2 separate regions of the Homo sapiens genome follow, and region 2 is reported to be linked to region 1. Evidence: microRNA targets listed by miRTarBase, many of them from high-throughput screens and not tested one by one. Region 1 holds a microRNA gene; the other region holds the end of a gene's coding sequence.
What was found. The annotated mature microRNA hsa-miR-762 reads GGGGCUGGGGCCGGGGCCGAGC and lies in region 1 at 3,333-3,354, shown strand. An mRNA with a match to its seed (bases 2 to 7 or 8) in the 3' UTR can be bound and repressed. Matches are read on the target gene's strand: a 7mer-m8 pairs with bases 2 to 8, a 7mer-A1 pairs with bases 2 to 7 and ends in A, and an 8mer does both.

Region 1 (5,071 bases):
GCGGGCGGATCACCTGAGGTCAGGGGTACGAGACTAGCCAGGCCAACATGGTGAAACTCCATCTTTACTAAAAATACAAAAATTAGGCCAGGCACGGTGGCTCACGCCTGTAATCCCAGCACTTTGGGAGGCTGAGGCAGGCGGATCACCTGAAGTCGGGAGTTCGAGACCAGCCTGGCCAACATGGAGAAACCTCGTCTCTACTAAAAATACAAAATTAGCGGGGCATGGTGGTGCATGCCTATAATCCCAGCTACTCGAGAGGCTGAGGCGGGAGAATCGCTTGAACCCGGGAGGCAGAGGTTGCGGTGAGCTGAGATTGTGCCATTGCACTCTAGTCTGGGCAACAAGAATGAAACTCTGTCTCAAAAACAAACAAACAAATAAACAAAAAAAACAAAAATCAGCCGGGCATGGTGGCATGCCTGTAATCCCAGCTACATGGGAGGCTGAGGCAGAAGAATCGCTTGAACCTGGGAGGCAGAGTTTGCAGTGAGCCAAGATCGTACCACTGCTCTCCAGCCTGGGCAACAGAGCAAGACTTCATCTCAAAAAAAAAAAAAAAAAAGGCTGGGCGTGGTGGCTCGTAATCCCAGCACTTTGGGAGGCCAAGGCGGGCAGATCACCTGAGGTCAGGCGTTTGAGACCAGCCTGGCCAACATGGCGAAACCCCAACTCTACTAAAAATACAAAACCAGCCGAGCATGGTGGTTCATGCCTATATTCCCAGCTACCCAGGAGGCTGAGGCAGGAGAATTGCCTGAACCCAGGAGGTGAAGGTTGCAGTGAGCCAAGATTGTGCCGTCGCACTCCAGCCTTGGCAAGAGCGAAACTCTCTCAAAGAAAAGAAAAAGAGAAAAGAAAAAAACCCAACCACGTAAAGTGTTTACCAGGGCACCTAGCACACAGTAAGAGCTCAATAAATACTAGCTGTTGTTATTCCTATTATTGTTAATCACCCCTATGACTATCACTATTATTTATTCACTCAACAGATATTTACTGAGCACCTACTATGTGTCCCATATTATTCTGAGGATACAGTAGTGAACAAGATCACATAGGGCCAGGCACAGTGACTCACGCCTATAATCCCAGCACCTTGGGAGGCTGAGACAGGAGGATCATTTCAGGCCACGAGTTCAAAACCAACCTTGGCAACATAGCGAGACCCTACCTCTACAAAAAATTTAAGAATTGGCTGGGCATGGTGGCACACACCTGAGTCCCAGCTATTTGGGAGGCTGGGGCCAGAGGATCCCTTGAGCCCAGGAGTTTGAGGCTGCAGTGAGCTATGATTGCACCAGAGTACTCCAGCGTGGGTGACAGAGACCTTGTCTCTAAAAAAAAGGGGGGGGAGGGCCGGGTGTGGGTGTGATGGCTCACACCCGTAATCCCAGCACTTTGGGAGGCTGAAGGTGGAGGACTGCTTGAGCAAGTGAGTTTGAGACCAGCCTGGGCAACATGGTGAAACCTTATCTCTACAAAAAATACAAAAATTAGCCAGGTGTGGTGGCATATGCCTGTGGTCCCAGCTACTTGGGAGGCTGAGGCGGGAGGATCGCTTGAGCCCAGGAAGTTCAAGGCTGCAGTGAGCTATGATCACACCACTATACTACTCCAGCCTGGGTGACAGAGCGAGACCCTTTCTCAAAAAAAAAAAAAAAAAAAAAAAAAAAAAAGGATCAATATGGGCCCAACATTCAGGAAACTGACATGAGAGTGAGGAGAAAGATAAACTAGTAAAAAATTAATTTACATGAAAATCTCAGACAGTGATATGTCTGTATAGATTCTAAGAGACCAGAGGAATGAGACTGTAGCTACAGGGAGATTCTGCAGGAGTCGGAAGGCGCCTTGAGGAGGGTGCACAAGACGGGGAGCAGGTATAGGGATGAGCTGGTAGGTTAGACTCTGGAGAAGACAGGACTTAGAGGAGAGAGCTCCTGGGAGGTACCTGGTCCTACCTCTCTCTTGGCCCAGCCGTGGGGGCTGAGCCTCCTCAGGGACCCCTTCTGGGGGTCCGGCAGGTGACACAGGGCGGCTGGGCTGGGGGGTGCCCCCAGGACTGGGCTCTGTGCCCTTTTGCAGGGAACCTTCCGAATGGAAACTCTGGTTGCTGTTCTCATCTGCGGGAGCAAGAGCCGAGATGGTTGGCCTGAGATCCCTAGTACACTCCTTCAGTCCCCACAGCCCCCCGCGTTTCAGGATCCCTACCTACCATTAAGATCCAGCAGGATGAGAGGGCCACCCCCTCGGGGACTGGCGCCCCTGCCCCGACGTTCCCGGCCACGGGATCTCTCTGCCCCGCCACCTGCCCGCCTTCGCTCCTGGGGGTTAGAGGATTAGGGTCAGAGCTCTTGGAAAGCCCCACCATACACCTAAGGAAACTGAGGCACTGAGAAGCAAAAGGGCTCAAACTCAGGGGGTGTGGAGCAGAAAAGAGGGCAAAAGGGGAGGAGCTGCTAATGATGGTTCCCGTCTGTCCTGCTGCATCTGAGGTCTCGGGGAGCTGGAGGTAGAGGTCAGCGTGGGGAGGAACTTGCCTGAGGTTGCACAGATGCAGGGCCTTGTGGGAATGGGGGTTGCTCACCTCCTCCTGGGGATCCACCACTGGCACCCACTTGAAGATACGAAGGGAAGTGTCGCCCACAGTCACCCATCGCTTCTCCCTGTGGGAGGGTGGGGGGCTGGGTCAGAGAGGCCTGAGGGGAGACCCACCCCCCTAGGAGCTGGACACATCTGGGGGTACCTGCAGAGGTTGAGGAGGCACAGGAGGATAGCAACAGTTTTGCTAATGGGGCATAGTTACATGGAGGAAGAGAGTCCTGCAAACCCCAGGGCATAGGCGGTGGGTGCCTCTAGAGAGAGGATATGATTTGGGGCCCTGGCTCTGCGGACCCCTGGGGCACACATGGGGGGCGTGGCTATGGGCCTGGCCCGGGATCAGAGCCCTGCAGATCCTGGGGCGCACCTGCAGGAGGGGTGTCAAAGCTTTAGGGGGCGGGGCACAAGAGGGGGCTCCCGCTCTGGGAGGACACGGCTGGGGATCACGCTTTGTAGACCCCCAGGAGTAGCCAGGCGAACGGGGACAGAGCCCTGTGGATCCAGGGCAAAGCTAGTGGGTGGAGATACACCGAACACCCGGGGCCCAGAGCTGGCGAGGGCAGCGTAGACGCCTTTGGTGCTGGTGGTCCCGCTGTGTCCCGTCCCTGGCCCCCGAGCAGCGCTCACCATCTCCGGACCTTCTCGATGGTCGCCATCACCTTCTTGATGTCATCCTTGGCCCGGCTCCGGGTCTCGGCCCGTACAGTCCGGCCGGCCATGCTGGCGGGGCTGGGGCCGGGGCCGAGCCCGCGGCGGGGCCGCCTCCCGTCCGGCGGGCTCAGGCTCCGCGCCAGGCCCGGGCGCCGCGCTCTCGGCCTGCCGTCCCCCCTGGAGTTGGCCGCGCCCTCTCTCGTCCCCAACGCCTCCGCAAGTCCCCGCCCCGTTTCCTGCCGCCGCGCCCCGCCCCGGCCTGTCCCCGGAGCGGCCCGGTGGCGCGGGCGGCCAGAGCCCAGGCCTGGAAGCCCGGCCGGCCCCGCCCCGACCCGGGCCCGCCCCCTTGGAGCGCCTGGACGCTCAGCGCCCCCTGCCCGCCGCCGAGAGCGGGAGTTGGGGACGGACGCGCGAGTTGGGGACGGAGAGCGGGAGTTGCGACCGGACGCGCGAGGCAGGGCCGAGGCCGTGTGTTCAGACCACGTGGGCGCGGGGTGCGCGACAGGGTCTGTGTCCTGCGCTGCGTGAGCCGCGGTGGGTGTCCGCGAAACGCTGTGTGTGGAGTGCGTGCGTGTGTCCGCCCTCGCCAGGCTGTTGGTCTACACCGCCCAACTTACTCAGTCATCCATTCATTCAACAGTCTTGTTAACTGAGTGCCAATTACGCTCCAGGCGCTGCGAATACGAGTGGGTCTCCACCACCAGAATGGCTAAAGTGAAAAAGACCGCACCGTGTGGAGGCGAGAAAGTAGAGCGACTGGACCTCTCTTGTATTTCTGGGGGAGTGTAAATTGGTAGAGACATTTTGGAAAACTGGCAGTTTTCTAATGAAGCCGAACATATGCCACCTCTGTGATCCAGCAGTTCCACTCCTAGGCTGTCAACACCCAGCAGAAATGTGTAGGTGTGAGCATCAAGAGGGTGCATGGGAATGTTCAGAGCCCTTTCATAACAGCCCCAAACTGGAAATAACCCATCAACAGAATGGAAAATGAATGATGCCCTACTCACTACCATGCACATAGACACAGCAACGGGATTGACATGCCCGGCTACACACAGCAACATAGACAAGTCGCATGATGAAATCTTGAGTGACAGAAGCCAAATGCAACAGTACATACTAGATGGTTCCAGGTGTATTACGTTCAGAACCAGACAAAACTAATTTATAGTGCACCAAAGTCAAGATAGTGATCGCCCTTAGGGTTGGGAGGGGACGAGGGGAGAGCTTCTGGGAGCTGATCCAGTTCTGTTGTGTAATCTGGTGCTGGTTCCCTGGGCATATGTATTCTGTGAAAATCCATCACATGACTTAAATAAAATGTACATTACTTAAATAAAATGAGTGTGTCTTTGTTGACTTTATTTGAGGCTGGCTTGTCAGCAGATAAGACCATGTCAAAATTTGTGCTGCTGTTGTGTGTGTGTGTGTGTTTCAAGGTGTGGCTGTTGTGTCTGTGAATTTGGGCGTGACCATGTCCAGAGGTTAAGGGTATAAGGGGTTAGGAGCATGGTTAAGACAGCATTTTTTTGAGCCAAGCTGCTTAGGTAAAATCCCAGTTGTGCCACACCTAACTGTGTTACCCTGGACAAGTCACTTCTCTCTATTCCGCATCTATAACACAGGAGTTAGTTAATGTGCATATGGCTCTTAGAACAGTGCCCAGCACATGGTAAATGCCCAATAAATATTTACAGTTAATACACATGTGATTGTGGGCCCTACCAATTGTCTGGCTCAATTCTATCTGCTGTGCCCTCTCCAGTTAAACTCTTTCTTCTTTTATTCCAGCAATTGCTCACGGCAATAC
Region 2 (5,071 bases), not on the chromosome of region 1:
ACATCTGAGAAAACCAAAGTCAGGGATGAAGTGAAATGCCTGAAATAAAATAGCTTCTTAAAACTGGGCCTCAAGCTTCCGGTATTCTTTCCACTGTACCACTTTATTGATGTGTATGATGTAGTGTTGATTTTAGCCTGGCAGGTAAATGTTACTTGTTTGTAGAATAAGATGTGACCATTCATGCCACTTGAAGGAACCGTAAGGCTTAGATTCTTTAACCATACTTTTTATTACTTTGTTTAGGCATAGGTTTAGTCTCTCTTATCAAGAGATCAGAAGCTGAATGTGGAGGCAGAATGATAGAGCAAATGATAGAGCGGAGCAGTGCTGCTAAGCAGCTAGGCATTTTTCTAGGCACTTCTCTGCTGAGGCTGTTTTAAGTAGGTGGACACCCTGTAGTTCATATATTTGCATGTTTATAGTTTGTAACATACAGAACATGCTTAGTCAAGTATAGATATTCTTTGTAATTAACCCTCAGAATAGTATGTATTCTGATCCCTTGTTCTTTATTCTCCAGGCACCATACAGGAAGATTACTTGAGAGAGCTGCTGACAACCATGGGGGATCGGTTTACAGATGAGGAAGTGGATGAGCTGTACAGAGAAGCACCTATTGATAAAAAGGGGAATTTCAATTACATCGAGTTCACACGCATCCTGAAACATGGAGCCAAAGACAAAGATGACTGAAATAACTTCAAATTCCAGCCAAACGTTCCTTGTTGCCACTTTGGGTATTCTGAGATTTTCTCTTGCATGCCCTTAGCTTTACAGCTTTTGCATTTCCTGTTGTATTTATTCTCAGCCATTTTGGGCATATGTATCTTTATAATCAGACTGGAAACGGGACTTTCTATTAATATCATTTTCAGAATAAAAAATAGGATAATTTAACCTACCAGCCCTTCTCCCCCAATAACTGTGGTCTATACAGAGTCAATATATTTTTTCAGAGAAAGTTATTCGCTCGATTTTTTCTGAATCATAATTAAACTTTATGATAAAATACTTACTTGTTTAAACTTCTTATTTACCAAACTTGGCTTTTGTTGGTTTCAGTCGTATCTCCCAAAGAAAGGTAGATGAGGGAAATCCTAGAAAATGATATGGTTGTTAGCTTTCTCTTCCTCCAGTTTTCCTAACAATCCTATCTCCTCTACTATCCATTCCTCCTCCTCCTCCCAAGGATATCCAATTTTAACTGCCCTAATCAGGTTTTCTGCACTTTGTCTTCCAATTTTTAAAATAATTTCCTGTAGAATTTGCATATATGATAGTTTCCATAGCTTTAAGTCCTTAAGTTGACATACCTGCCAACATTTCCACTTTATTTAAACTTTTGTAATTTCTGGTCATTTAAAATTAGACCAGGTTACTGAGTATAATTTCAATTTGTCATATTTTTAAAAACCATTTTGGCTTAAAGGTTCTGTGGAATGCTACCAAAGAGAGATTTTTATGTTATGTTTTAAAGTGCTGGAAATATAATGCAGTATTTTTTTTATTATATGTAGTTTTTCTTTAACACAGCAATGTGTATTGAAAGATATTTGTTTATGCAGAGATTCACCATGAGTCCATGTTTGAGTTTTGGACATTCCTGACCTTCCCACAATCAAAACAGCTGAACCTGCATGCCTGGGAAAGTGAGGTCATTATTTCAGTCCTAAAAATAACTTCTACTATTTGCAGAAATGCAGAACTGTTTCACAGTTAATCAGGGAGTGGCAGACAGTTTCGTTCTTTTTCAGCTTTAAAAATCTGACTCTCAAAGGGCTTCAAGATTCTCTTTTTTTTCCAGACAGGGTCTCTCGCTCTATCACCCAGGCTGGAGTGCAATGGCACGATCACAGCTCACTGCAGCCTTGACCTCCTGGGCTCAAGTGATCCACAGCCACCTGAGTAGTTGGGACTACAGGCAGGCACCACCATGCCTGGCTAATTTCTTAATTTGTTGTAGAGACAAGGTCTCATTATGTTGCCTAGGCTGGTCTAAAACTCCTGTACTCAAGTGATCTTCCCACCTCTGCCTCCTAAAGTGCTGGGATTACAGGTGTGAGCAACCATGCCCAGCCCAAAACTCTGACTCTCAAAGAGCATGAGTTTTAAAAGATTTGAAATGGAGAAAAATTTGGTTGAAAAGATTTGACAATTAGCCTATGAAGATGAGTAATTGACAATTACTATAATAACTTTAAGTTTTATGCTACGATTAACATGACTCTCCTTGGACAAAACCATTACCTCATTCAGTAAACAATTACTAAAAGCCTTCTGGGCAGCAGGCCTTTGCAGCCAATAAGATAGATCAGCTAGATCCTGTAACGTGGGAAGGCCAGTGCTATAGGAATAGAAGGACTAGTCAAAGCTAGTCCTTGACCTCTTCAGCATTAGAATCTTAGAACCTGCCTTCATTCTTTGTCTTTTGTTTCTGAATTTTATTCACTGGTTAAGCCAAAATACTTTTTCCAGGCTATGGCCATGGTGCTAAAATCTTGTTTTTTGAATTGAATTTCCATGTCAAGAGAAAAAATTATCATATGCTTTGTTACATCTCTAGTGAAGAACAGATAGCATTGTTTGCACTATATGAAAAACAAGGTACTACTAAAAGGATCTCTTGCAGGGCCCCTGTTTCCCTTTCAGATAAGTGCTTAATGAACCAACTTGCATTAAGAACAATGATGTACCCTGAATGAAATAATTCTCCTAATTTAGTAATAGCATTCTTTGCTTAAACAAGAGTGATTGCCAACAGAAAGGTAAAAGCATCCATTTCAATGGTGTGTTTGACTGAAAAATCAGTCTCAAAAGTTTCCATGATGAAAGTCATACTTAAACCATTTCAAAAGATCTGGCTAGGCACGTTGGCGCACATCTGTAATCCCAGCACTTTGGAAGGTCGAAGTAGGAAGACTGCTTGAAGCCAGAAGATTGACATCAGCCTGGGCAACAAAGCAAAACCCCATCTCTACATAAAAATTAAAAATTAGCCGGACATGGTGGTGGGTGCCTATAGTCCCAGCTACTCTGGAAGCTAAGGTGGAAGGATTGCTTGAGCCCAGGAGTTTGAGGCTGGAGTGAGCTGACTGTGCCACTGTACTCCAGCCTGGGGTGACAGCGAGACCCTGTCTTGAAAAAGAAAACAAAAATCGGACAAAACCAGCCTAATGGGGGTGGCATCCTTATCCACCTGCATATGATGATATGGTCATTTTGATTCCAGGCCCCAAATTTTACTTGATGAAAGAATCTATAACTTGATGAGAGCAGGAATTGAATGCTCCTGGGAAAGAAAGGAGGAAGGCCTGAGCATAAGAGACAAGTAACAGCAAATTGAGAAGGAAAGGAAACCATTTGCTACAAAGTGAAAAGAGGAAGGACAGCAAGAGGCTTAACACCTAGACTTGAGGATCAGATAAAAAATGATCAGAGTTTGGAGAGGTAAATAGAGCCACAAAAACAGTCTTACGGAAACCTAGTTAATTTCAAGAGTAAGGAGGTTGGCAGTGTCCAACACAGAAAAGTGGAGTATGGGAAGGTTTAAATGAGACCCTCCCAGATGTGACAAGTCGTTAGTCATGTTTGCTAGAGTTATTAGAGTTCTGAGTGCAGAATCCATAATGCAGCACAGGATAGTGAATAATGCCTAGGTGTGGGGTCAGGCAGACCTACACTTAATTCCCGTTTGTTGCTACGTCATGGCTCTATAACCTTAAGTCAGTTATTTAAACTTCCTTGGCCTATTTATTCATTTATAAAACGGAAATAATACTGTTGGTTCATATTAGGAACATAATATATAAAGCAGCATTTGTGTGATTAAGAGCAGCACGGATTTGGAGCCATACTTAAGTGAATTGCACCTGCCTATTTGACTTTGTGTTCTTAATTGCCAGTTTCCTCATCTGTAAAATGGCCAATACCATCCAAGTTTCTTCTGAAAATTAGAAGCATGAAAGACAAATGGTCTGGGACACATTAGGTCTCCAAATAGTAGTTATTTTGTTTACGAGTGGGCCAGTGAGAAGGGGCAAAGGGCATATCTTCAAATTCAAGCCTGTTTATAGGCAGAGTAGAAGACAACAAACTAGGGGGGAACAATTAGTGAAACAAAATGGATCATGTCTAAGAGCTAGGATGTGACAGAACCTAGACCACGTAGGATTGCCCTTAGAAAAGTGGATGGATTTCAAGGTAGAATTTCATTAACAGGTTGTTAGGAAGATTTTATAAGACTATGCATACAAATGCCTGTCAGTTTGGTACTAGTGGATTCTGAAATAGTTCACTTTCGATTTCCTGAGCAGGTCCAATATGCCAGACTTGTGTGTGTCGAATTAGGTCCTCTTCACGGGTACAGTTTATTTTTTCTGTCCATAAAGGGATTGTAGTAGCTAATCCCACATTGAAGAAATGCCCAGTTTTCCCATTGCTGCTTATTCGAGTCATTTCCACTTGCTCTTCCATCTTCCAAGTCCCTATATCTTTTTAGTCTAGATTTCTCTGTGTCTGCTCAAATAGCAGGAAATGTGACTTTTCTCCAGTATTTATCCACACACATTTTAGAGTTGTAATGAGTTTACAACTTGTTTTTTCGTTTACTACTTAAATTATATCTCATGTTTTGGCATAGCCACCATTGTTTTGAGTATATTTCTTTTTCAACCATTCTTAACTTCAGTTATCTTTGATGTGGGCATGCTATAATTAACAATTTCCCAATGATAGATATTTAGCTATCCAGCTATTTTTATTAGTGAATAAATTTTTATTCATGATTAAACAAAGCCTATTATAGGCTTTTCTTTTGCATCTAGAGAGAACAATATACCTTAGAATTATTTCTTCAGAATAGTGCTGTCAAATAGAAGCTTCTGTAATTAAGGAAATGCTCTCTGTGCCATACAATAAGGACACTAACCACATGTGGCTATTGAGCACTTAAAATGTGTCTAATACTAGCCAGGCGCGGTGGCTCACGCCTGTAATCCCAGCACTTTTGGAGGCCCAGGTGGGCGGATCATGAGGACAAGAGATTGAGACCATCCTGGCCAACATGGTG

Region 2: miRTarBase lists MYL12A as a target of hsa-miR-762. Seed matches in the 3' UTR shown: 7mer-m8 at 905-911.

Annotation. Positions count from the first base shown.
Region 1 is chr16:30,890,619-30,895,689 of GRCh38, forward strand. MIR762 (microRNA 762) reads left to right here and starts at 3,285; the gene lies at 3,285-3,367. BCL7C (BAF chromatin remodeling complex subunit BCL7C) reads right to left here and starts at 3,459. Exons shown (of 6, transcript NM_004765.4): 1 at 3,235-3,459; 2 at 2,594-2,672; 3 at 2,222-2,330; 4 at 1,968-2,129. The coding sequence starts at 3,326. It overlaps MIR762HG (MIR762 host gene), which reads left to right. Exons shown (of 3, transcript NR_110942.1): 3 at 3,930-4,602. RefSeq lists enhancers at 2,416-3,048, 2,587-2,916, 4,660-5,071 and a silencer at 3,297-3,776.
Region 2 is chr18:3,255,223-3,260,293 of GRCh38, forward strand. It overlaps MYL12A (myosin light chain 12A), which reads left to right. Exons shown (of 4, transcript NM_006471.4): 4 at 524-1,014. The coding sequence ends at 696. It overlaps MYL12-AS1 (MYL12A and MYL12B antisense RNA 1), which reads right to left. Exons shown (of 4, transcript NR_130145.1): 3 at 1,020-1,100; 4 at 214-616. Among named protein-coding and RNA genes, the nearest start is that of MYL12B, 4.4 kb to the right of the region's middle.